Regions from separate parts of the Homo sapiens genome. Here all the other regions are linked to region 3. The links come from fine-mapping of genetic effects on gene expression. A gene starts in region 3. Each other region holds a variant in brackets. All regions are shown on one strand. Distances are from middle to middle.

Region 1 (8,186 bases), 30 kb after region 3:
TTTGAGCTAATGAATACTGAGTCTCCCTCTTTTCAACTTCTGAATTAAAAAAAAAGTCATCTTATTTTTCTCTGTTCATTTTTACACTTTATTTAGCCTAAGTATCTGAAATTGGCTTTGCTAGAAATTACAATTAGTTCACTGTTGTTTTCTTTCAGTCCCAGACAAAAAAGAAAAATTTTAGATTTCTTTCTTTTCTCTTCTTCCTTTTTTTTTTTTTTAAGGTCATTTATCTTTGGCAGTTTTAGAGATTTAGAAAAGAAAATATATAGACTTGTAGGCAGAAGAAGATATGGCACTGAGGGAAGTTTTAGTTTTGTTCTGTGACAGTCTTCCTTATCTTGTATGTTGTCTTTAAAAAGCCTACACATTTAGATTTTCATTACCTCATTTGCAAGGATACAGGATAGCACATGTAGGAGAATTGGAGTGTAAGTCCAGAAACCTAAGTCTTATTCTTAGCCTTACTGATGAACCAGCTTTGTAACCTTGGGCAAGTTATTCTGTTTCTCTGCACCTTCTCATTTGTAAAATAGGTTTACACAAATCATTTCTGCATTTTGGCTCTGATTCATTATGCAAGTTATCAAAATCAAATTTGTAACTATAAATGAGTAATATTTTATTATTTTTATTTTTTTAGAGACAGAGTCTTACTCTATTGCCCAGGCTGGAGTGCAGTGGCACCATTATAGGTCACTGCAGCTTCAAATTCGTGGGCCCAAGCAGTCCTCCTTCCTCAGCCTCCTGAGTAGCTAGGACTACAGGCATGCACCACTATGCCCCGCTAATCATTTTTACAGAGTCACGCTATTTTGCCCAGGCTGGTCTTGAACTGCCCTCAAGTGGTCCTCCCACCTCAGTCTCCCAAAGCACTGGGATTACAGGCATGTGCCACCATGTGTGGCTCTAATCATTTTTAAAGCAACAATCAGTGGGAAATTTCAGCTCCAAATGGGAGAAAAATTTCCAAAGATTAGCCTTTTTTTTTTTTTTTTTTTTACAGATTTGCTACAGTTTTGTTAATGTGCTTATTTCTCATTACCATAGATAACTTTGAGATGGCTGCCTTGGATTACAAACTAGAATTTATTACTATTTCACATAGCTTGGGAAATTAAGTGTAGTTTGTGTAGCCTAAATTATCCTTTATAGAGATGTAGCTGCAAGGGTTAGCATTTCTTCTTTGAACCCCAGGTATGCAGTATATTGCTTAATACTCTATTGTTCCATAAATATGCATTCCAGAAGTCAGCTGACCATTTGTCCTTATCTTTGAGGACAAAGCCCGTACATATGTAAGCATTAGTGAGCAATGTAGAATATAAAGATTTGGTAGCAGTAGAGAGTTTACGCTCTACATCCCACTGCAAGTAATTTGAATATTGCCATATTATCCACTGTGACCTGTGCTGTTTGTTAACGTTCCTTTTCCCCACCTTCCCCGAGGAGCTTGTAGTCTCTCACTATATATTTTTTTCTCTTTGGATTTCCCTTCAGCCTTTAGATTTCTTATCTCTAATGCAAGTCTACTCTAGATTTTTCTCCCAAATGTTTAAAACCAAACCTATTATCTCAGTGGTCATCAAAGGTCCTCTAGTTACCAGTATCCACCCTTCTTGGAATGCCTGTTTAGCAATGTTCTTTTGTTATATGAGTAAGAATAACTCTGGTATTTGCTAAGAGAATATAATTTTCTCCACATTGTATGTATCTATGTCCTTTGTTTATAAAGCCTGGGGGGCGTTCCCTATTAGGTTAAGTGTCCCTACGTAAATAGAAAAATATGTAGGGTTTTATTACTCAACTTTTTAAGGTTTCTGCTCAAATTGTCAGTTGAATAACTCTTGTTACTTTGGGGCTAACATGTTGCATAGGGATTTTAACAATAAAATATATAGAGCATTTTAAAAATTATTCACTATAATTCTGAGTGGATTAAACCAAATGACCGGGTTCAAGACTCTACTATGAGTTCACCTTTGCTTAATAAAAGGCAAGACTGAACATTAATTAATGACTTCTTGGCCCAGCCTTAGAATTTTTCAGTTTAGGGATTAGTTTGGTTTTTAAAAGGTACAAAATGTTCATGAAATTTTCTGATTATATCAAATATTAATTCAGTCTTGTTTTTTGTCATAGTACTTTGTTTTGAAAAGTTCAGATCAACTGATAATACTAGTGCTGTGATGAGACTCAGCTTGTACTCAAGAACAGATTTATGACTAGGTGAGAACTAAAATTTCTCTCAGAAACTAACTAAAAACTTTCATGGACAAATTGAATCCCCTTGGGATTTACTATTTATGGATATACGCCAATTTAATTATTGGACTAAATAAAATACTCTTTATTAGTCCACTTATGGAAGATGACTGTGTAAACATAGTATTTGCAAGTAAGTACTTTTTGGTATTATATTTATATAATCAGCTCTTGTATCCATGTAGCTTATAGTTGGCTGCTTCACCAGGACTCTACAAATTGCTCAGAACCCAAGGAGGTAAGATTTTTATATTGCCTGTTTTCAGTATGTAAAAGTCCAGCCACAAAACTATTAATTTACCCTTGACTATATTTTTACAGTTGCTGTGGAGCTGAACCTAAAATTTTGTTAGATGGTTACTTGGTTTGTTACATTTTTATATACTAATTTATATACTATAATAATATACTGTATATATTTTTTAAAGTCTGGGGTTTGTTTTTAGAAAGTATATTCTATCTTCAAAGAATTATTTGGTAGTTTCATGTGTGTATCTGGAAAATAACTACTGTACTTCTTTATAAAAGTGAGAGTGAGGTCCCTGCTAGTTGAGGCTGGAATCTAGACGTGGCTGTTTATGTAGGAGTTAGTAATTAAACAGTGCCTGTTTGCTGACTGCCTCATTTTTGCCAGGCTCTGTATGGGTGCCTTGCAAGGCATTGCCTCATTTAAACCTTGCAGCAGCATTCAGAGGAAAGTATTAATATGCCCACTGTACAGATGAGGAAGTTGAGGAATGCTTTATTAGTAGGTGTGAAGTGTCTTAAGCATAATACCTCCCTCCTCAACCTTGCTCCCTCATCCTAGTTAAGGGAATTGAGACACAGAGATAAGGCAATTTGCTATTGACCTTCAGCAGATGACTTAACCTCACCGTGGCTTAGTTTCTTCATGAGTAAAACAGGGTACCTATCTTTTAGGATTGGTGTGAAGATTAAAGAAGTTAATACATATACAAAACTTTAGAACAGTGCTTGGCTAGTAGTAATCTCTCCATAAATGTTAGATGTTATTATTAAGCCTGTGACTACCTGTTATCTCATGTAGTTGTTCAGAGATAAAAATGTAGGCTATAGGAAAGAATAAGGAGGAAAGCCAGGCTCCTAATCTGTCTAAGATAGAAGTGAATCTTAGTTAAGTTTTAAGATAATCCTATGTGCTTTTAAAAGATTTCATGGTTTGCGGTTTGCTTTTCTTTGGCTCCCAGTTTCTTTTTTTTTTTTTTTGACTTCTTAGTACAGGTAACTTTTGAAGGAATTCAGCTTACCTTAGATGAACCAAAGGAAAGCTAAAAGCCGAGATAATTTAGAAAAACTAAAGCAGAGATTATGTTCCTAAATTCCCTCTTTCTGCTTCAAAGTCCAGGAAACACCACCTGCAGATACAGTTGTATCCCATTGTTAGACCCTTTCCTGAAGCCATCCTCTTTTCTTTGTCTTCCCAGAGAGAAACTAGTCATTCGACAAAGATTGAACTTCTTCTG[T/C]GTGTTAGGCTGTGCTCCAAGTGCTGGGAAGACACCAGTGAATAAAACAAAAAGTCCCTGCTCTCATGGAGTTTACAGCCACTATTCTAAAGTTTGTCTGTATTCTGCCTGTCCTTGTTTTTATACTTTTAGCAAATATGTGTATAGAATTGTTTTGCAGCCTTGTTCAGCATATTGTCTTCTTTTGTTTTTTAGGAATATCTGTTTATGTAATTAGATCTGTTTTTGATAAATTGTATTCTGTTATTTATCCTTCCTACCTTCTAATGAGCAGTTAGGTTATTTCCAACATTGACTATTATGGTTCTCCAAAAAGATCATTGAATATGTCACCTTGGATGGATGGATGGGAGAGTTTCTTCAAGACAGCATGTTTCAGACTTTTTGTTGTGACCACAGTAAGAATTATGTGCACCTCAGCTTAGTAAATACAAATATACACTTGGGACAAAAACTTCAAGAAACAGTATTTACTTACTTTTATCACCTGGGATGCACTCTATTTTGTTCTGTTTTGTTTTCTTGAGACGTTGTTTCGCTCTTGCTGCCCGGGCTAGAGTGCAATGGCATGATCTTGGCTCACTGCAACCTCCACCTCCCAGGTTCAAACAATTCTCCTGCCTCAGCCTCCTGAGTAGTTGGGATTACAGGCGCCAGCCACCACACCCGGCTAATTTTTTGTATTAATAGAGACAGGGTTTCACCATGTTGGCCAGTCTGGTCTCGAACTCCTGACCTCAATTAATCCACCCACCTCAGCCTCCCAAAGTGCTGAGATTACAGGCGTGAGCCACTGCGCTCGGCCTATTTTATCTTTTTCAAATGCAGTTTACACACAACCCAGCTGATTGGGTTGTGTGTAACCCATACTGATTAAACTGATTTATCACCCGTGTTCATTATTTTTAAAACGTTGTTTTGAGATCTATAATTAGAAGTGGAATTGCTGAGTAGTTGCTTAAGTGTATCTTCAACTTCTTCAACTAGCTGTTGCCAGTTGCAATTCAGAGTGGTTGAACCAATTTAAACTCCTATCGGCACTCTAGGGGAGTTCCTGTTTCTCCACATTCTGACCAACTCTTGATATTGCCAGATGGATGAGAAATGGCATTTGTTTTAAATGTGCCTTCCCCTATTTACTAATGAAGTGTTTAAAGTGTCTTTTAAAATATATCACATAGAAGTTTAATTTAATGGTAATCAGAGCTGGCGGCAAGGAGGAAATATTATTGTGATTGACTGCCTCCTCTGGCAGAAAAAATGGTGTAAAAATTATATAATAATATCTATATTATATTGAGTATTTATAATTTGCTAGACACTATACTTTGTGCACTGTATACATTATTTTATTTAATCGTCATAAGAATCTTGTAAGGTTAGTGCCTTCTTATATACTTTTTTTTTTGAGACGGAGTCTCGCTCTATCGCCCAGGCTGGAGTGCAGTGATGTGATCTCAGCTTGGCTCAGTGCAACCTCTGCCTCCAGGTTCAAGCCATTCTTCTGCCTCAGCCTCCCAAGTAGCCGGGATTACGGGCATGCGCCACCATGCCTGGCTAATTTTTGTATTTTTAGTAGAGACGGGGTTTCACCATATTGGCCAGGCTGGTCTAGAACTCCTGACCTCATGATCCACCCACCTCGGCCTCCTAAAGTGCTGGGATTACAGGCGTGAGCCACCACACCTGGCTGCCTTCTTATATGCTTATACAGGAACAGATGGAGAAAGAGATTCGGAAAGGTTCAGTAGTCACACTATTACTAAGTAGTAGAGCCAGAATTTAAACCCACATTGGTCTAATTTCATAACTTATTTTCTTTAGTACTTCATGCTATTGGTGAATTCGTAGAGGAAGGAAGTTTGTCATTACTATTCTTTTCTGTTGGTTTGTCTCTTAAATGTGTTTAATTTTTTGAGTTTCACTCACGTCTCTTTTTTTCTTTCCTTTTCTCAAGGTAGTGGAGTCTTTCCTCTGTAAAACTTCACCTTGTTGTTTCTAGTCTAGGATAGTGGTCTTGTAACCTAGGATAGTGGTCTTGGTTACTGCAATTTTGGTTGATTATTTCTTGTTGGCCCTTAATGTGCCCCCATCTTCTGCCTTAGGCATTCCATCTAATCTTTTCCAGCAGTTTGCAACCTTACTGTGCCTCAGAATCACATATGAAAATTTAAAAATCATAGATACCTAGGTTCCAACCCTACCCTGGAAATTCTGATTTGGAAATATTTATTTTTCAAAAAGTCCACAGATAATTCTGTTGCACAGCCATGGTAGAGACCCATTTTCTTAGGGGTTAATGATGCTTTAGAGTCACGCAGACTTGAATCAGAGCCCTGATTCCTTTAAACTTATTAGTTGAGTGATCTTGGCCAAGTTCTTTAATCTTGGCTAAGGTTCTTCATCTATAAATTGGAGATAATATTATTATCTACCTTAGAGAGTTGTTGAAGAGATTAAATGAAGTAATGCTTGTAAAACACTTACCAGAGGGACTTAGAATACTTCTTAAACATTGCCTGCTAATAAGGTGTCATTATTACGTTATCCTTTATCCAATCAAAATACTCACCTTTGCAGTGTGTATCAACTTGATGTCAGAAAAATAATCTGATAAATATCACCATAAGGGATGGATGATAGCTAGTTTTCATTACTTACCTTTCGTTAGTTGAACTGTACTAGGAGGCAGAGGAGTAGGCAGATGGTTTTATCACGCCAATCAGCCAGTCTTTTCTGCCTATGTATCAGTTTGGACCTATAAGGAAAATGAAGGGGAAAACAAATGTTTTTCTTTCCTTCCTAGGAGGATTTTCTTCTTGCCCTTTTTCTCCCAGTTTCCTCTCTGAGCTGAGTATCATTAGCATCATCAATACCCTAGTTTCAGAGCTGCGTAGTGATTTACCTAGATACTTTTCTCCACCATTATTCCCTACTACCTAACTCCTCTTCACCTCCATTAAATCTCTGTTCATCATGCTATCCTTCTTTTGGATTGCCTTTAGTTCAGTTGTGACTTACTTGATTACTTGAACCCAGGTGTCTACATTTCTAAGCTATTGTTCAAGTAAGGGCCAAGGTAAATTCTAACCAGCTGTCTCTTTGCCTTGTGTGGGCCCATTCTAGACCAGCGGGTGTTAACTTTTGAGTATTGGAAAAGGATTAGATTAGCTGAGCCTTCAGGCTTGTCAGCAGGGCTGTCACTAGACCCTTTGATCTTCTTTATATACCTAATGGTCATAGAGTATAATAATAATGGTACATGTTATTACTATATGATTAATAGATTACTAGTAGTAATTTTGTTATATATGTATACAGTACACTTCGTTATGTATATATATAATTGCTTGCAACTTGAAATTTGAGGCTACAACATTTACAGTAATTTAATAACTTAACTGACTTTATCAAAAACTGAAAAACCTCATGGAAAAGGTAGAATGTAAGGTAGACTTAAAAGGATAGGTATACTTTTTTCTATAAATAGGATGAGGCAAGAGTTTCCAGTTAAGGAAACTGACATGAGCAAAGGCTTGAAGGAGCATGCAAATTTGGAGCATTGTGAGTAGATTATTTTTTAGTTTTTCAGAGTTCATGCAGTGGGAATAAAACTAGGGAGTTTGGAATCAAGCTTGAAAATTCCTGAATGTTCAACCAAGATATATTTGAGTTAGTAGATTTTTTGGGTATGTCATGAATTCGTTTGGCTTTTCTTAATTGATATACATACAACTTAGTCCTGAGCTTACACATGTTCATTGTATCATTAAACATTTAGCCTGGTTGGTTTAAGTTGATGGCCACTGCCAGGTCTCCTTTCTGCCTTCTCCCCTTTATCCCAATGCTTTAGTTTTTTTCTGCCTTTTTGTCTGTTGTGATCTGTGCTTCATCAGGCTTTCCCCCAGTTCCTCCTTGTTAATCTCCAGATTCCAAGTCAGCAACACAATGAATGTCTGCTTATCGCGAGTTGTGAATTCCCGCATATCTCTTTCACTTATTAAAAAGATTGTTTGGTACATATTTTGTTTATAAGACAGTTATTGACTTTCCTGTTTCTCTTCCTTTGCAGACCTAGAGGATCAAGACATAATGGGAGCATTTTTAGACAAGCCAAAGATGGAAAAGCATAATGCCCAGGGGCAGGGTAATGGGTTGCGATATGGGCTAAGCAGCATGCAAGGCTGGCGTGTTGAAATGGAGGATGCACATACGGCTGTGATCGGTTTGCCAAGTGGACTTGAATCGTGGTCATTCTTTGCTGTGTATGATGGGCATGCTGGTTCTCAGGTTGCCAAATACTGCTGTGAGCATTTGTTAGATCACATCACCAATAACCAGGATTTTAAAGGGTCTGCAGGAGCACCTTCTGTGGAAAATGTAAAGAATGGAATCAGAACAGGTTTTCTGGAGATTGATGAACACATGAGAGTTATG
Region 2 (8,186 bases), 32 kb before region 3:
TTTTGAAAGTTAGGCAACTCCTCACATATTTTTAAATCAACATCTAACCACTTTTATCAGAAGTTTGAATGGTTAATAAAAAGGTAATTACTGATAAAATTGAAATTACTATTAAATAATAAAACTCTTGTACCACTCTTTCAAATGTAGCTAGTAGAACACAAATACTGTAGTGATTTAATACCTACTGTTATTCATTTAAAAAATAAACAGGTTCTTCTTTAATAATTGGACACTTCACTCATTATTTTTCTTCTTGAACAATTTGTTTCAGTAAGGATCATCTCGATGTGGCAGGGAGAGCTCATGTATGAGTTAATCTGACTACGTGTTCTGTAAGTCCAGTAATGCATTTTATGTGCTTTGTTCACCTAGATATGCTCAATGACCAGAGAATCTACATCTAAACCCTTAAGCTCAGCATTACCCTCTGCACTTTTAAGCATGTGCAGCAAAAATTCAGCAAGCTTTTTGGGCCACCAACCCCATCAGCCCCACTGCTTGGCCTGGGCACACCCAACAACTCCCCCCCTGAAATGTCGGAATGGTACACCCTGCTTCTGTAAAGTGACGTCTTTCAGATACTTGGGGCTTTTTGTATATGCATACCCCTGATGGCCTGGGCAGTTTCATGAGTGTTCTGAAAGTGAACACAAAGATTTGAACCTCTTGATTTGCATAATTTTGTGGGATTTTCTGGGTCAAGTGAATAGTGAACTATTTTCACAGATCACCTCAGGTCACTTAGGGGAAGAGCAGTCTCATCATCTTTAACTTCTTAGCAGTACTTGACACTGTCAACTACTAACCAATTATCAAATCACTCTCTTCCTTTGGCCCCTATGAGACCATGCACTCTAAGTTTCCTACCACCCCTGTGGCCTCAGACTCCTGTCCTGATCCCTTCTTCTCAAGCCACTTCTGAATGTTGGGGCTCCTCAGGGCTCTGTCCTGAGCTCAATCTGTTCCTCGTGCTCTGTTTTGTCATTCCAGGATGATCACATTTACATAGGCTGCTGATTCAAATATATATCTCTAATCTAGTCTCCTTGCAGAGCTCCAGGTTTGCGTAGCTAATTGATAACTTGAATTCTCTATTTGGAGGTCTCAGAGACATCTCAGATTTAAGATTTACAAAACCAAATTCTTAATCCTTGCCTGCTCAAATGTGCTTTCCTTTGGTCTTCTACATCAATAAATAAGATCTTCACCTACTTAGATGCTCTAGCATGAATACTGGGTGTGTCATCCTTGATATAGCCCTTACCTTCAACCTCACCTCCCTCCTTCAACCCTACCTTCAATCCTAACTAAGCCATCACTGAGTCTCATAGATGTATCTCTCTAAAATATTCCCTGTAATCCACTTATCTTTGTTTCCACTGTCACCACAATCCAAGCCATCAGACTTTTACAATAGCTTCTTAACTGGTTTTCCTCCATGCTTTTTCTTTCTTTCTTTCTTTTTTTTTTGACAGGGTCTTGCTCTGTCAACCAGGTTGGAATATAGTGGCATGATCATAAATCACCGTAACCTCAAACTTCTGGACTCAAACAATCCTCCTGCCTCAGCGTCTGGAGTAGAGGGGACTACAGGTGCATGCCACCACACCCAGGTAATATTTTAATTTTTTTGGAGAGACAGGGTCTCACTATGTTGACCAGGCTGGTCTTGAACACCCAGGCTCAAGTGATCCTCCCACCTCAGCCTCCCAAAGTGCTGGGATTACAGGCAGAAGCCACTGTGCCTGGCCCCTTGATCCTTTTTCTAATCCATTCTTCACATAGGAACCAGGGCAATGGTTAAAAAGATAAATTTGATTGTGTTATTTCCCAGCTTAAAACCCCTCGATGACTACCCACTGCACTTAGATAAATAAAAATCCTCCATCCTCAATATTGCCTACAAAACATTGCACAATTTATCCCTACTATCCCAATCTTATGACATGTCTCTCTCCTTGGCTATGGCCCTACCACGTTAGCCTTCTTCAGTTCCTGGAGGGTGCCAAGGTTTTGCTTACTCAAAGCCTGCTCAGTGTCCAATACTCTTTACCAGGCTTTACCCTCTAGTCTAAATGTAAGTGTCATTTCCTCAAAAGTCCTTTTCTAACCTCCCAATCCAAGTCATGCTCCATTTTGATACACAATGTTTATCATTAGCCATACACATTTCCCTACTTATTTGCTATTTCGAACAGTGCTGCTATAAACATTTTATGTATGTGTGAGTTTCTGGGGCAGTGCTTTTCAAACTGTGGGTCCCAATTTGCTGGTGAACTAGTAATATCAATTTTTAAGAAAACAAGAAGGAAAAAAGAAATTGAAGAAGATAGAATAAAAATACTAGAGCTATTGCATGTAACAAGCATTAGCTTTGTTTTATGACATTTTTATTTCAGGGTGTGTGTGTATTGGATCACAAGGTAAAATGGATTTATTACTGCAGGTCAAAGTAGAAGAAGGTTGGAAAGCCACTAATTCAGGGTATATTTTAGGAATGGATATCTTGGGTCATGGCCTTTGATTATAATTTCAAACACAAATATAGAAAATTAGAAGATTCAGAGAATACATTATATATTTATACATACATATATTGCACTTTGCTCTTGGTTTACTCATGCTAGTTTCCATAAACTTTTGCTCACAGTAAACGTACTTTTTTAAGGGGAAAATTCTTAGAGTAAATTATCTTACATATATTTTCTAAGGGGTGAGTTATTTATGTAGAAATCAGTGTTGTTTAAGCACACAGAGCAGTGACAGAAACCAGGAGGTCTTAAGTTTTTGGATGCATTCTCTTTTCATAACTTTCTACATCACCAATTTACATTACAGCTAGAAATAAATCCTCCATGTTTATTTAAACACTAAAAGTGCAGAACACATTTATTTTATTGTATAAAACTCTACTGGAAAAATCCTGGCTGCTTAGGATAGTAATCCCCAATCCATGGACAAAATACCATCTCCATGTGCTGTTTTCTATTCTTGTGCCATTCGGTGCTGCCCTTTAACCTACCTTTACTGCACAGCAAAGATCTGTAACAGAGCCAATCCTACCCAGCCAGAGCAGACAGCTGCCTCTGTGTAGATCTTGAAAGGAACTGCAGGGCAATCTACGCAGAAGCATCTCCCTACTGCCTGACTTTTCACCATTAGAGTGACTTGTTTGATATCAACCAGATGACCCTTGTTAAAATACAAATATCTTAGGTAAAAGGAGGAAGTCACATTTTTAAACTATCATCCATTAGCTAGTGAATTGGTTTATTGGATTAGTTTTAAAACCAGGATCAGGATCTTGAATGAGTGAGATGAAAATAATTGACATGCTAGGCCAAAGAAAACCAAGAGGCAACAACGGCACCTTTAGTGAGAGGGCAATCTGAGTTTCCCTGCTGAAACTGAAGAAAGAAGAACTAGAGATAAACTCTCCCTGCTTTGCAGTTTGCCCTGCCTGTAAATACTAACTCTGTTATGATGGCGCCATCTTGGAAGCACCATGAATCACAGCAGTCAACATTTCAGCTCTGTTCTATCCAACCTCATTCACATTCTCCATCCATTGTGAGGCATCAGGCATTGCTCCATTCTTGCATTCAAATACAGCTACTCAGAGTCAATGTTTGGAACACAGAAACCATCCAGGTTTGGATACCCATCTGGTTTATGTGTCGCCCTTTTATTTCTATTTTAATTATATTTAGGACTGTCCTGATCCTTCTTTTAGCCAGTTTTGTTTTTTCAATCAACTCCAAATAGAGACTCCTCTTGAGCAAAACCAGTACTGCCCTGTAGCTTAAGCCAGAAATGAAAAGAGGAATGCTGGATTTAAAAAGCAATAAAAGAAAACAAATCCAGACAGGGAACAGGTCTGTTTCTTGGGACACATCAACCTTACACCACATTGTCAAAGTCACTTTTTATTGAAGAAGATAAACAGCAAATTTTTTTTTAGATGAAATCCCTCCATGGCTGATGTAAGAAAGAGGTCTTTTGGTAAAAATAGCAGTAATGACAACTTTAGATTGCCATTTAGATTTAGGTCCAGGTTTAGATTGCTGTGCCAAGATTCAGTTGTAGGGGTGAGTTATGAACAGGCCAGCTGCTCATGTATTCAAGTGGATTTTGCTCCCAGAAGCCCAGGGGCTCTGCATTTGGGGGCAGGCTGAAGACAGGCAGAGTTCCTCGCCTTCAGAGCCTGGAACTTCTACTTCCCCGTCACTTACTCTCTGGCTAAGCTTTGATTAAACTCATTCACAGTGAGGTGTAAATGACAAAGGAGGTTCCTTGTTTGGTGTTAAGCCTCCTCCCACTAGAAATTCATAATGCACATTAGCATATTAAGATGTTGAGAAGTTCTACTGAGAAGAAACCTGTCTAATTTTGTTTTGCCCGAAGTGTCCAATTTGACCATGTACCTCTTTTTGACTTCAGAATAACTACTAATATTTTGGGGAGCACTAGCATTGTGACAACTGTACTCCTTTCAGTTAAATGATTGCATTTCT[C/A]ATCCATTCCTTCTTTCAACAAATAGCTACTGAGACCTAGTATGTACCAGGCACTGGTGAGTAAAACAGGCACCTTCATGGAGTTTACATTGTTTAATGTTTGTCTCATCCATGGTTTGTTGTTTAATTAATTAACAAACATCTTTAAAATAATCGCACAAGTGAGAACAAAGCTGAGCCAGGGGAGCCCTTAAAGGTTCTCTTCAAGGTAACTGAGGAGACCTGGAAGCTGGTGCTAACTGGATGAACAGAGTGGAGGCCTGAAGGGAACAGCGTTCTAGGAAGAGGGAACAGCAGTGACAAAGATCATGGTGGTATTCAAGGAAGCAGAGTGCGGGTACCATTCCTGTTTGAGGCTAAAGAGGTGCATAAAAGCCAGATCATGTCAGAAAATTGTCGGGGAAAGATTTCTTTTGGCCCAAGGGTCCTTTCTCAGTGCAGCTGAAATCGCAGCACCTCTGTGTGTTGGGCACTTGCCAGGTCCCAGGTAGGGGCTGTGTCAGGTCACCACACAGACAGGCATTAGTGCCTTTGTTTTTCAGAGGAGGAAACAAAGGTCAGAGAAGCACGTGGCCTGCCAAGACCATCAAGCTCCTTGGGGGCAGAGTCAGAATTTAAATCCAAGTCCGTCTGAGTCCAAAGCCATGTGCCAAACTAACAAGCTGCTGAAGACTGCTGTCTGACATTACTGACTCCCTCCCCAAAGCTGGCGCTTCTGTGAGATTCCAGACTCTGGTGGAGGGTGTAGCAGGGAAATGACAAATGCAAGTGTAATGTTTCGTGTCAGAAAGTATAGCAGTGGACCAAAAGGTAGCCATTCTGAGTACCAAGTGTGGACACAATTTTCCTTTTCATGCTTTGAACTAGCCTGTTGTCCTAAGCACAGCAGGGAAAGCCAAAGCAGCCTTTGGAAGTCCTGGTTTCCTGGGGCTCTGAGTCCTGAGATGTGGTAGTGGATTTTAGATATCCCAGGAGCACAAGCCTGTGGCCCCCATGGGCCTCTGTGCCAGCACCCCAGACCCCAGACTCCTGAGAAGTTCCGGGACCCCCAGGGAGATGGGTTGGTGATACCAGTGAGGCCTGAGAAATTCACAGCTGCCAAAGAGTACTTGAGCTGGAGGTTGGAAGCCGGGGAGTTGGTTTCAAGGCCTTTTAGAAGCTCTTAGAGTCTGGCATCCTGTTTCATGTGCAGAGTGAAAGCGTGTCCTCAAAAAGCCCTGGATCTGCCCTACTTCCTCTCTGGACTTTCTTGAATATAGAGTGGCAGACAGGGCTAGAACCCCATTCTCCTGACATTCTCTATACCATACACTTACATGTGTGTATGTACATGTCATACATACAGGCATGCACACACACACACAAAACACACACACACACACACACACACACACACACACACACAATTCTTTCCATCTCCACACAAAACTTACTATAACTTGTGTCTGCATTTCAGAAATCCTGGAGTCTCTTACATCTGATAACGGTTCGGGGTCGCTATGTCCCAGTGAACTGTCATCTGGGGGGATGAAATAGCTCCCAGGGTACACTCTCAGTCTAACCAAGTGGATATTCACTGGCCTACACTGAGAGACTCCGAGGGGGACAACTACTCTCGGTAGGTCCTCCCTGCCCTTCAGAACATCACTGTCTCCAAAACAATCCCTTTGTAGGGCACAGGCTTTTGAGCACACATATACCTGAATTTGATTCATGGCCTTGCTGTATGACCCTGGCAAGACTTTCAGCCTCAGTTTCCACATCTACAAGATGAAGATCTAATTCCCTCTTCATGGGGTTGTTGCAGCAACTAAATAAGCTCTTATAAGTAAAGCAGTTCACACAGTGCTGGGCACATGGTAAACTCTCAGTAAATAATAGCAGTTATTTCTATATAGATTGCCCAGCAGAACTCAAGGGCTCAAGGTACATAAGCAGGTGGGACTAGCGGGAAAACCTGCAGCAGTGTAATCTCTGGCTCTGGCCACCCCACCCCTTCCCACCCTGATCTTCAATCAAATCTAAGGGTCCTCGAATAAACTGACAAGTGGCCTAGGCTCTCTGCCATCTCCTTGGGCCAGGGCATATCTACAGGATTGAGGACACATAGGGTAGTAGATCAGGAATTACCTTCGCGGTAGTCCTTTCTTCATCTTTTCTTGGCTGTTTGATCTTAGGCAAATCATTTACACTCTGCATCTCACTTTTCTCATTTGTAAAATGAGAATAGTAATGACATTCTCCCTACAGGAAATTTGTGCAGATTAATGAGATAATGTAGAAAGGGTGCTTAGGGTATAGTTATGTTTTATGATGGAGAAAGAGGACTGATAGTTCAAAAGTGTAGCCTCTGCTAGAAAACTTCCAGTAACAATGAGTTCACAGAAAGGTGATTACATTGTTACTCAGTTATAATTGTTTAAGGTTTTCCCTTTACATTAAATGGGTATCTGTTCATTTCAACCTTGACACATGTGGATTTCATAGGACAAACTCCAGATCCCTAAATTAGAATTTCTGAGGGACAGGGCCTGAACTTGTAGAGTTAAAAGCCCCAGTTTTAACTGTGACAAGCCAAGACTGCCCACCACCGGACTATGGACCAAGAATGACCTGGAGTTGGGGCAGAACTCTCCAGGGCTGACACTAATGTGACCAAGTTCTGTGGATAGCAGGGACAGAAACATAACCTGATTCAAACTGTACGCTTAAATAGAAGTTTGGCTAAAGTGGGAAATGTCCCACTTAGGAAAGTTTATTAGGAAAATCTCCAAATAGCTTAGACCTTCTGGATTTGTCTGACTTCTCCAAATGACCACACTTTAATTTATTCCTCCAATTGTCACCCCCAGGTATCTCCTAAGTGACTTGAGATGAAACAGGGAGAATGGCCACAGAAAGGTTGGCTGAAGGATTAGAGAGATTGTACACCTTCAGACTCAGGGGCTGTCAAACAGTGACAAACAGTGAAGAGTGAGTGAGGAGACTTCCCTCGTGTACCTCCACACACACCTTAATTGGTATCTGCAAGTACTTGTACTAAAATGGGCACATTTTAAAGCAGAAAGAAACTTTAACCACTATTTAGTTTGTGGGTACATAAGACATTCAGCTTACAGGTCAAGAAAGTGTTTTGCCCTATAATGTGTTTTGTCCTATAATGTGTTTTGTACAATAAGTTATTTAAAGCATAAAATGTAAGCAATACAATTATAAGGAAAATATACTGACTTCTATTACTACATTCTTTTTCCATGCTCTTCATCTTGGAATGTATTTACACATTGCCATTTTATATAAAATTATGTTATTTCCCTAGGAGATTGAGAGCTCCTTGAGGGAAGGGATCAGTCCTGATGCAAACTTACACAGCATTCTGAGTATTTGGAAGGTACTCATCAAACACTTGATGAAATATTAAATATCGTGGAACTTGTACTTTATGTTGCTAAACCTAGATCCAAGATAGGGCTGGCCTGTTTAGAAGTTACCACCCCAGCACCTTTTGCCACACTATGACAAAACAACCCTGGGAAGCCCCCAAAAGTTTCTCTGGCTGCTTACCAAGTTTCTCTTTCTGCTTACCAAGGTAACTTTCCACTCCCATTACCTAAGTGACAGGTTATGTGGGTCTCTAGAGACAAGGCTCATGGGATTTAGTTTCTCTTT
Region 3 (8,186 bases):
TCAATTTCAATAGTTGAATAAAGGTGTTTTTTTTTCTGTCATGCAGGCTAGGGTGCAGGGGCATGATCTCGGCCCACTGCAACCTCCACCTCCTGAGTTCCAGTGATTCTCCTGCCTGCGATTCTCCTGCCTCAGCTTCCCAAGTAGCTGGGATTACAGGCGTGTGCCACCAGGTGTGGCTAATTTTGTATTTTCAGTAGAGACGGGGTTTCCCCATGTTGGCCAGGCTGGTCTTGAACTCCTGGCCTCAAGTGATCCACTCGCTTTGGCCTTCCAAAGTGCTGGGATTACAGGTGTGAGCCACTGCACCCAGACTATTTTTAATTTCAATTTTTAAAAAAGTTGCTTTGCTTTTTGCACCAGACCAACTCACCAAGTTATTTTCTATGGATTATACCCGTGCACATAATGTAGTTTCCTGATTATAAATTAAATATCCCTAATGTCCACGTTGAAACACTCTCGAAACTTAAATGACCATAAACTATTTGCCTTGAGTTTGCTGAACTTGTCTTTGGGCTGTAAGAAACTCTTTTCTGCCAAGCTCTTTTCCACATCAGGCCCTTTGCCCATGCTGACCCCTCTACCTGGAAAGTTCTCCCCTGATTATGAAGCTGACTCCTTCTCATCCTTTAGATCAAATGCTGCCTTCTTAGAGAGGTCTGCACTGAACACCTGTTTCAAGTCGTCTCCCGGATCTGTTTCCTTATTTATTTTCTTCACAGCATGGATAACAGTATGCAATTTCCTTTCTATCTGCTGACTTATTTGTCTATGCCTCTTATTATTATGTTGGCTCTTTGTGGGCAGGGCTTGCCCATTGATGTCATTATCTACCTCCAGTGTCCCACACAGTGCTTGGTGCACAATAGCTATCTCATGAACAGATGAACTTATCTGACAAGATCCACTCTAGTATTGTAAGGCTGTGGCCATATATGGCTATCTTGAGGTGAAAGCCTACCCTAAAGACTGTCCAGGACTTGGCCTCTGGTGCTCACAGTTGCCCAGGTTTCTCTCAGGTCGCAGGATGAGCCACAGTGGTAGCATAAGACTGCTGGCTGCTCCCCTCTGCCCCTCCCTAATGGGGCTGCCCAGTGATGTCACACAGGACAGGATTCTCTAATCCTTTTGATTCTGTAACAGTCCTCTAAGCAGCTAAGTTTCTCATAATGTATTATGATGTAGGGGAGGGAGGAAGGAGGGCCAGGGTAGGGGGCACACCCTCTCCCTGAATGAAATTCATTTAGGGGCACTGTCTGCTCGCATGTTCTGTTCTGGGAGAAAATGGGTAGCAGAAGCTACAATTTGTACTAAGCTAATGAAAAGAGAGAAAAGAAGAATGGGGAAGAGAAGGGCAAAGAAGGCAAAAAGAGAAGAGAAGAAAAAGGGAGGAGAGAGAAGGAGAAATGAGAAAAGAGGAAACCAAATGAAGAGGATGTGTGAGAGAAAAAAATATGAAACAGGTAGTGAGGGAGGAAGGAATTGTTGAACCTATGTTCTGGTTGGCTTTCTAACTCTTGAGTAGTGACTGGCTTCAGTGGAAAAGGATGGTGAGGGGTATTCTCAAATACTAGCCTCCTGAGGGGGTCATTTACATTACTGCATATATTTTGAGAGGCCCAGGCAAGTCTGCCTCAAGGGTGACTCTCCTGGAGAGTAATTTGGGAGCAGGAATGTAAACCTTTTTTTAAGTCACAATTGTGGTGGAAAGGGAAAGAGAGTATTGCTGATCAGATTAAGCTTTAGACTCCACACTACAGCCCCTGTCCTCACCCCAAGCCTCCCAATTACTAGGCTATCAACACACACTAAATTCAGGACTTTAAAGCCAATCTTGTAGATAATCTTTTTCTTTGTTAATTGAAATATAAACAGATTTCCAAAGCAGAGCAGGATAGTTTTATAATATACCTATAAAAATTACTAAAATGTCATCATCATGGCAATATATTCCCACTAAAATCTTACTGTGAACATCCCAAATATGTGTAGAGGCCCGGCAAAGTCTTACAGTTCAGAAGAGAACTTTCAATCCTCTTTTTTCAATGTTATTTTCCCCTTCTATCTGTCCCCCCTTCTTAGCATAAGGTTTAATAAAAGGGGATATGATGATATTAAACATATTTAATCAGACAATATTGATATCTTTTTAAAATATTAATCTTATAACCCATGAGTTTCCTAGTTCATACCAAAATGTCCCTGCAAGCTGTATTCAGAAATAAATAGTAGGAAGGTGCTGCTTTATCGGCAGTCTGTACAATGCGTAGACTCCTTAAAAATTTCTTTCTGTTCATATTTTCTATTTCTCTCCCTCTTCTTCTACAATTGACCCAGATTCTCCAAGTGCAGAACAGAGAGAAGAAAGGTGTGGAAGCCTAAAGGAAGGAAGCAGAAAGATAGGCAGGCATTTCAAGTTTTCTATGGTCCACTACCGTCACTAGTGACCCAGCTTCTGCTTATAAATAAGAAAATTTGTCTTTTAAGAGCACTCTAAATGGTTGCCATATGAGCTTTTGTAGTTCAGAATGTTAATGAGTCCACCAGCATGCTACTCATGCTGTTACTTGCCTGGAGTATTAAGGATTCCAAGAAGGTAGCGTTTCAAAGATCTCTGATCTAATTTCTTTTTTTGGGGGGTCGGGGAGATATGTGGAGAATTAGGAAATGTATCCTCAGATGATACTGAGACCAAATGCATAGTGAATTTTATTTTTATTTTGTATATGTGGAAATGATCCACGATCATCTTCTAAGGAATTCTGGCCGGGAACAGTGGCTCACGACTGTAATCCCAGCACTTTGGGAGGCCGAGGAGGGTGGATCACGAGGTCAGGAAACCGAGACCATCCTGGCCAACACGGTGAAACCCTGTCTGAACTAAAAATACAAAAAAATTAGCCAGGCGTGGTGGCAGGCGCCTGTAGTCCCAGCTACTCGGGAGGCTGAGGCAGGAGAATGGCATGAACCCGGGAGGCGGAGCTTGCAGTGAGCCGAGATTGTGCCACTGTACTAGCCTGGATGAAAGAGCGAGACTCTGTCTCAAAAAAAAAAAAAAAAAAAAAAAAAAAAGTGAAGGAAACAGAACCTTCCCCAAAGTCATGTTGAGAAAATTAGAGATGGCTTTTTACAACTTTAAAAGCAGCAGCTAAATATTTGCTGAATGCCAGAAAGAATAAATAGGTTGCTTTTGATCTAAGAGTTGGGGCAACAAAATGGTTTAGGAGATAGAAAGTAGTAGGGTGCAAATTGCTATAGTGAGCTCCTCAAGTAAAATAGAGAGGCCTTCAACATAAATTTACCTTTTTTACTGGCCAGAACTCAATTTGGCCAGTAAAAGAACCTGCCTTCTACAATGAAGTCTTTGGTTTGTGTGTGCATCAGAACATCTTTTAAAAATACGGACTTTTCTTCTAACTTCTTTTCCTGCGAATGTGGTGTAGGTCAAATTCGTGAACTGGTTAAGCCGCTGACAAGAGAGGGAAGGGCACCCCAGCCAATGGGAACCCGTGCTGGTGATGTACTGCTCCTAGGCTGCGATTCATTGGCTGCCTAGGGTTTGTCATTCTATCCCCGGCGTCTGCAAGCAGCGTGGGTCGGGTTTTCCAGCTAGCTAAACTGGATTTTGGCCGCTGGCACGTGCAGTTTCTATTAACTTTAGCTCATCTCTACCTCTTAATAGAAGCAGCTGTTATGTTTCTGATTATTCTCCTGATTTTGAAAAATCCTGTTCCCTTAACCTACCTCATTGGAGGTCGTTGGAGGTCCCCTGGGACAGAACCACGTGATTATCTAACATGTGCAAATAAATACAATGTGGAATCCCCTGAACTATAGAGGGAAAACCTGCCAGAAACTCAGAGCATGTGCCCCGTGCGTGAATCAGTTGCACTCGCACATTGGTGGGCGGTGGTAGCGTGCTTGTGTCTCTGCCCTTTGGGTCGCGAGGTGTGTGGCCGTGGCACCTGCTTGGGCTTCCTGGGGTCACTGGGAGAGGAAGGCTCTGGAGGAGTGGGACTCTGGGGTAGGGGGGTCTGGCAGCTGCCTGGGACCCACCATGGGTTCGAAGGGCAGCGGCCAGACCGCGACGGCGCCCAAGAAGGGTGGACAGCTTCGGGTCTGTGCTCGGGGCTGCGTGTACACCATCTTCGCAGGGAGTGGGGTTTGTATCTGCAGGCAGGTAGAAGAGCCAGGGCTCCGGGCGCGGACGCCGTAGGGGTAGCTTCCGAGTCCCTACTTGGCCAAGGGCCGGCACGGAGGGGCTGTCGATCTACTGGGCACCTAATAGCCGCACATTCTGTCCAGTCCCTGGCGCCGGAACGTGAAGGCCCGGGTCCTGGCTGCTATCCGGGATCCGGACGCTCCCTTCGGCTTCGGCCTGGTGCTCCAGGCCGTAAGGCAAAGGCGGCGGCAGCAGCAGCGGCAGAGAAAGAAGCTGGGTAAGGCAGTGACGTCATCTGTGGCGGCCCCTCCCCCGCCCGCCAGCCCTCACCGCAGTTCCTGCCCAACGACATCCGGGTCTCTGTAGCTGCGCGCCGCGCCGCAGCTGTAGCGGCGGCGGAGCCAGCGGGGCGGGGCGAGCGGAGGGGTGGGGGAGGGGCGACGCGGTCGTGAGCGCGCCTGCGCGGGGCCGCGCTAGAGGCGGCGGCGGCGGCGGTGGCGGCGCTAGGGACGGGAGCGCGCGCGGGAGCTAGAGAGCAGTGGTCTCGGCGCTCGTCCGGCCCGCAGCTTCGGGTCCTCAGGCGGCTGTTGCTCCGGAACGGGTGGTTGGGGAGGGGGGGGTGGGGGGACTCTAGACAGCTGAGGCGCGAAAGCGATGAGTCCTCGGCTCTTCCTCCTCCTTCTCCGGGACCCGCTCTCTGCCTCCCTCTCCAACGCCCGGATGATCTGAGCCGCGAGGGCGCCGACAGCCGGGGGCCCGGACGCAGCCCGGCTCCTCCCCTCCTCCGCCCCTTCCCCAGCCTGACCTGGCCCGCCGCTGCAGCGGTGACCCCTCCCCCGGCTGCCGCCGTCGCCGCCGCGGTGACCCCCTCCCCGGCTGCCGCCGCCGCCGCCTCGGCCGACCAGGGACCTGCCCGCCTGCGGCTGCTCCGGGTAAGTGCGGCGCTCGGGCCGACGGCGGGCTGGCGGGCGGTGCGGGCCTGCGCGGCGGCGGCGGCGGGCAGGCCTGGGGCCTGTAAACAAGCCGGGCGTCTGCCCGGGCGCTCCCGGGAGGAGACGCGACAACTCCACCCCCTGGCCGGCCTCCTCCCCCGAGCCGGGCGGCGGACGGCGAGGGGTTAACGCTCGGCGAGGGCGGTGGCGGGGAGGCGGGGGCGGGGTGTTAGTTGCGGTGGCGCGGGGAGGGGGCGCGACCCTCTGGCCGTCCGCGGCCGAGATGGGTGTTTGTGGCGGCGAAGCAGGCGACGGCCGCAGGCCGGCCTGGCCGGAGAGCGGCCTGCAGAACTTTTCCCGAGCGGGGAGGGGGCGTCCCCGCGCCCCCACCCGCTCGGGCGCGCCGCCCCGGCTGTCCTGGGCTTCAGCCCCTGGGAGGGAGGCGGGGAGACTTCCTTTGAACCGGGCTTAGCCTCGAAAAACCTAATTCTGTAGAAATTGCTTAAGGTTTTACAGGGGGCAGGGCTGAGAGACTCCTTCAGAACTCAAGTCAGTGAGTGATGCCTCTAGTTCATTCATTATTAAGGCATCGAACAAATCCATTGAAGTAAATTCCGATTTCTTATCCTTTTAACTACGTAAATCGGGTAAAACTTCTTGATGTTAGAGCTTGGTTGAGGTATGGTTCTGTTCTGCTTGTAGATTTTAAATAAACTTGGAGCCTTTTCTTGAAAGACAGCTGGCTGTGGAGAGCCTTCTACCAACTGCAGTTTTAGATACGTTTTGAAAATTTCATCACCTGAGGTATTTTTCTTCTCTCCTGAAACACCACATGGTACAAATCCACAAAAGTCATGCTTCAGTTGTCCAAGCCATGGGATCTGTGTGCTAGCCCCACCTCCCCGCAAGTTTCCTGCTCATTGGAATAATGAGCTGAATGTGTTTTAAGAAGTGGTTGGAAGAGTATGAGAGATAGGTATCATTTTCTCAAAGGAAATGATTTTGACATTATTGAGAGAAATTAGACATTTTAACAATTGTTTTGTAAAACAGTCTTTTCAAACTTGCACGTTGGGGTTTTAAACACAACCACTTTACATGTGTTGCGCTCCGAAAAGTGGAGGGATTTGTTGAAACACTACTCTGCTGAGACTTAGGGTTCCAGAGCACTTGGGAATTTAGCATAGCTTGGTCCCCAACTCTCTTTGAAACACTTTACTTTTATACTTTTATCTTGCTACATATTGGGCCTTTTCCAAAGATTGTATTTCTGTAACTCCTTATTTTACAAATGAGAAAATTGAAAATAAGGAGATTCTCTATTCTTAGATGCTGCTTTTACTGACTTAATGCTTTCTTTACCAATAAATAATTTGAAGCACAAAGTAACATTTCCTAGTGTTATAGTTTTGTTCTTGTTATGTGTAACTTATATGTATCTGATTAAACTTTCAGTCATGTAAGGATGATTACTTTTAACCTGGAAGTTTACAGCAGTACCACATTATTGAAACTATAATGAACTTCCTGCACATGGCAGTTGCCTAAGACATTTTAATTTGATATCATAAAACATTTTTAGATCGGTGAAGTAATTATATTATGGGAAAGGTGTATTAAGACTGATAATGTTTGAAGTTAACTACCTCAATTATATTTGAGAAATAATAGTCATCAAATTGCTTTTTATTTGGCTTGTATCTTTTTATGTATTTTGTGTACATATTGTATCTTTTTACATGAGGGGCTGAGGTATATGACCTGTTGAAGGGAACAGTGCAGTAGGAGACAAGGATTGTTTAGTCATGGCTGTGCTCCAAAATATCTGTGTCCATGGACAAGTCCTTTAACCTTTTGAGTTTCAGCTTCCAAATCAGTAAAGCCAGTTGGGCAGATTATATTATCACATGTACTGTCCAGTTACTACATTTAAAAATTTTTTTTTATCAATATTGTGTGTCTAGTCAACATACCGTTGCCAAATAAATGCCTGTTATGTGTCAGGCACTTAGATGTTTCAGTGTTCTAAGGCTGGATTTCTTTCTCGGTTCTGTTTTATTTAACAAATTCTAAGTTGGTGATGGTTCTTTAGAAAAGCTGTTCTTGTGTTCTTGTAAGCTATTGATTTTTCTTTTGGGATTGGGATGTGTAGGGAAACTCTTGAGAGGAAGGAGGATGGAGATTTCATGGGAGACAAAGGGTGGTTGAGACTACAGGTTTGAACAAGCACAGGACCCTTGGTAGTCTGATGTGAAGGACATTATAAAAACACATTATGAAGGTTTTTTCTGTCACTTCAAGCTGGGTCTTGTTAAACCTTTGAAAATTCTCTAATACCTCATTTGTTTTTGAAAGAAATCTATAGCAACATCATTTTGTCATGTGGTAAATATTGCTGAGCAGTCACTAAATACCTATAGTCTTTTAGTTTGTTCAGATTACATCTAGGCCATTTGTTTACTCTAATAGCTAATAGAATGTACAGCTGATTTTGGTTTAACTGTGCGTGCATATTTGTAATTTTTAACCAAGAAGTGGCATATGTCCACAAGGAACTTGTTATCTCTGAAATACTCACCCATGAGAGCTGGATTAATTTTTTAAGATGTAAATCTATGCTCATGTAGAAATAATATAACAAGGTGATATTTTGATGATCCTCTCAAATGATTATCTAACTCTTGCCTGGGCACCTGACTCTGAGTCAGTATACTCTTGAATACTTTCCATCCTTAATCAAATCAGGAGAAAGAGATGGCCATGTAAGAAAATTGGCCACGGCAGGGTTTTATAAGAGTTAAGCAAGAAGATAAAACAACACATGGCCCTGTGAAATATATAAACCTTGGAGAAGAGGAGAAGGTATAGTGAGGCAACTGGGTAAAAGTTGTGTCTTCCTCTAAGTAATTTTATGTCACAATATGTCCTGTCTTCCATCTCAAATAACAAATTTTAAAATTAAGTTGTGTTTGTTATTTTGCTATTAGCCAAGATATATAAATTAACTGACCTGGGATTATTAGCCATTTGTATATGAAATAAACTTGGGTTAACCTATATCAAAATCAAAAGATTGATTATATTCTTTA

Direction of the effects. Positions count from the first base shown, and alleles are read on the strand shown. Sizes are in standard deviations (SD) of each study's normalised expression. Not every link is listed here.
For the expression in sun-exposed skin of the gene that starts at base 4,641 in region 3, C is the high allele of the variant in region 1 and T is the other (moderate effect, 0.46 SD a copy in GTEx).

The links.
Region 1: its variant is fine-mapped to the expression of PPM1A in sun-exposed skin (GTEx, PIP 0.97). The same link has a PIP of 0.9 or more in lung, spleen and tibial nerve.
Region 2: its variant is fine-mapped to the expression of PPM1A in whole blood (INTERVAL, PIP above 0.99).

Annotation. Positions count from the first base shown.
Region 1 is chr14:60,274,863-60,283,048 of GRCh38, forward strand. It overlaps PPM1A (protein phosphatase, Mg2+/Mn2+ dependent 1A), which reads left to right. Exons shown (of 6, transcript NM_021003.5): 2 at 7,822-8,186. The coding sequence starts at 7,842. Among named protein-coding and RNA genes, the nearest start is that of PPM1A, 30 kb to the left of the region's middle. RefSeq lists an enhancer at 7,419-8,186. The variant T/C (reference allele first, on the strand shown) is at 3,750.
Region 2 is chr14:60,212,195-60,220,380 of GRCh38, forward strand. It overlaps the pseudogene RPL17P2. Among named protein-coding and RNA genes, the nearest start is that of PPM1A, 33 kb to the right of the region's middle. RefSeq lists enhancers at 840-919, 7,955-8,186. The variant C/A (reference allele first, on the strand shown) is at 4,518.
Region 3 is chr14:60,244,581-60,252,766 of GRCh38, forward strand. PPM1A (protein phosphatase, Mg2+/Mn2+ dependent 1A) reads left to right here and starts at 4,641. Exons shown (of 6, transcript NM_021003.5): 1 at 4,641-5,097. It overlaps LOC101927702 (a long non-coding RNA gene), which reads right to left and starts at 1,056. Exons shown (of 3, transcript NR_188027.1): 1 at 965-1,056. RefSeq lists enhancers at 3,195-3,444, 3,987-4,715, 4,025-4,074, 4,135-4,484 and silencers at 4,585-4,684, 4,885-5,624.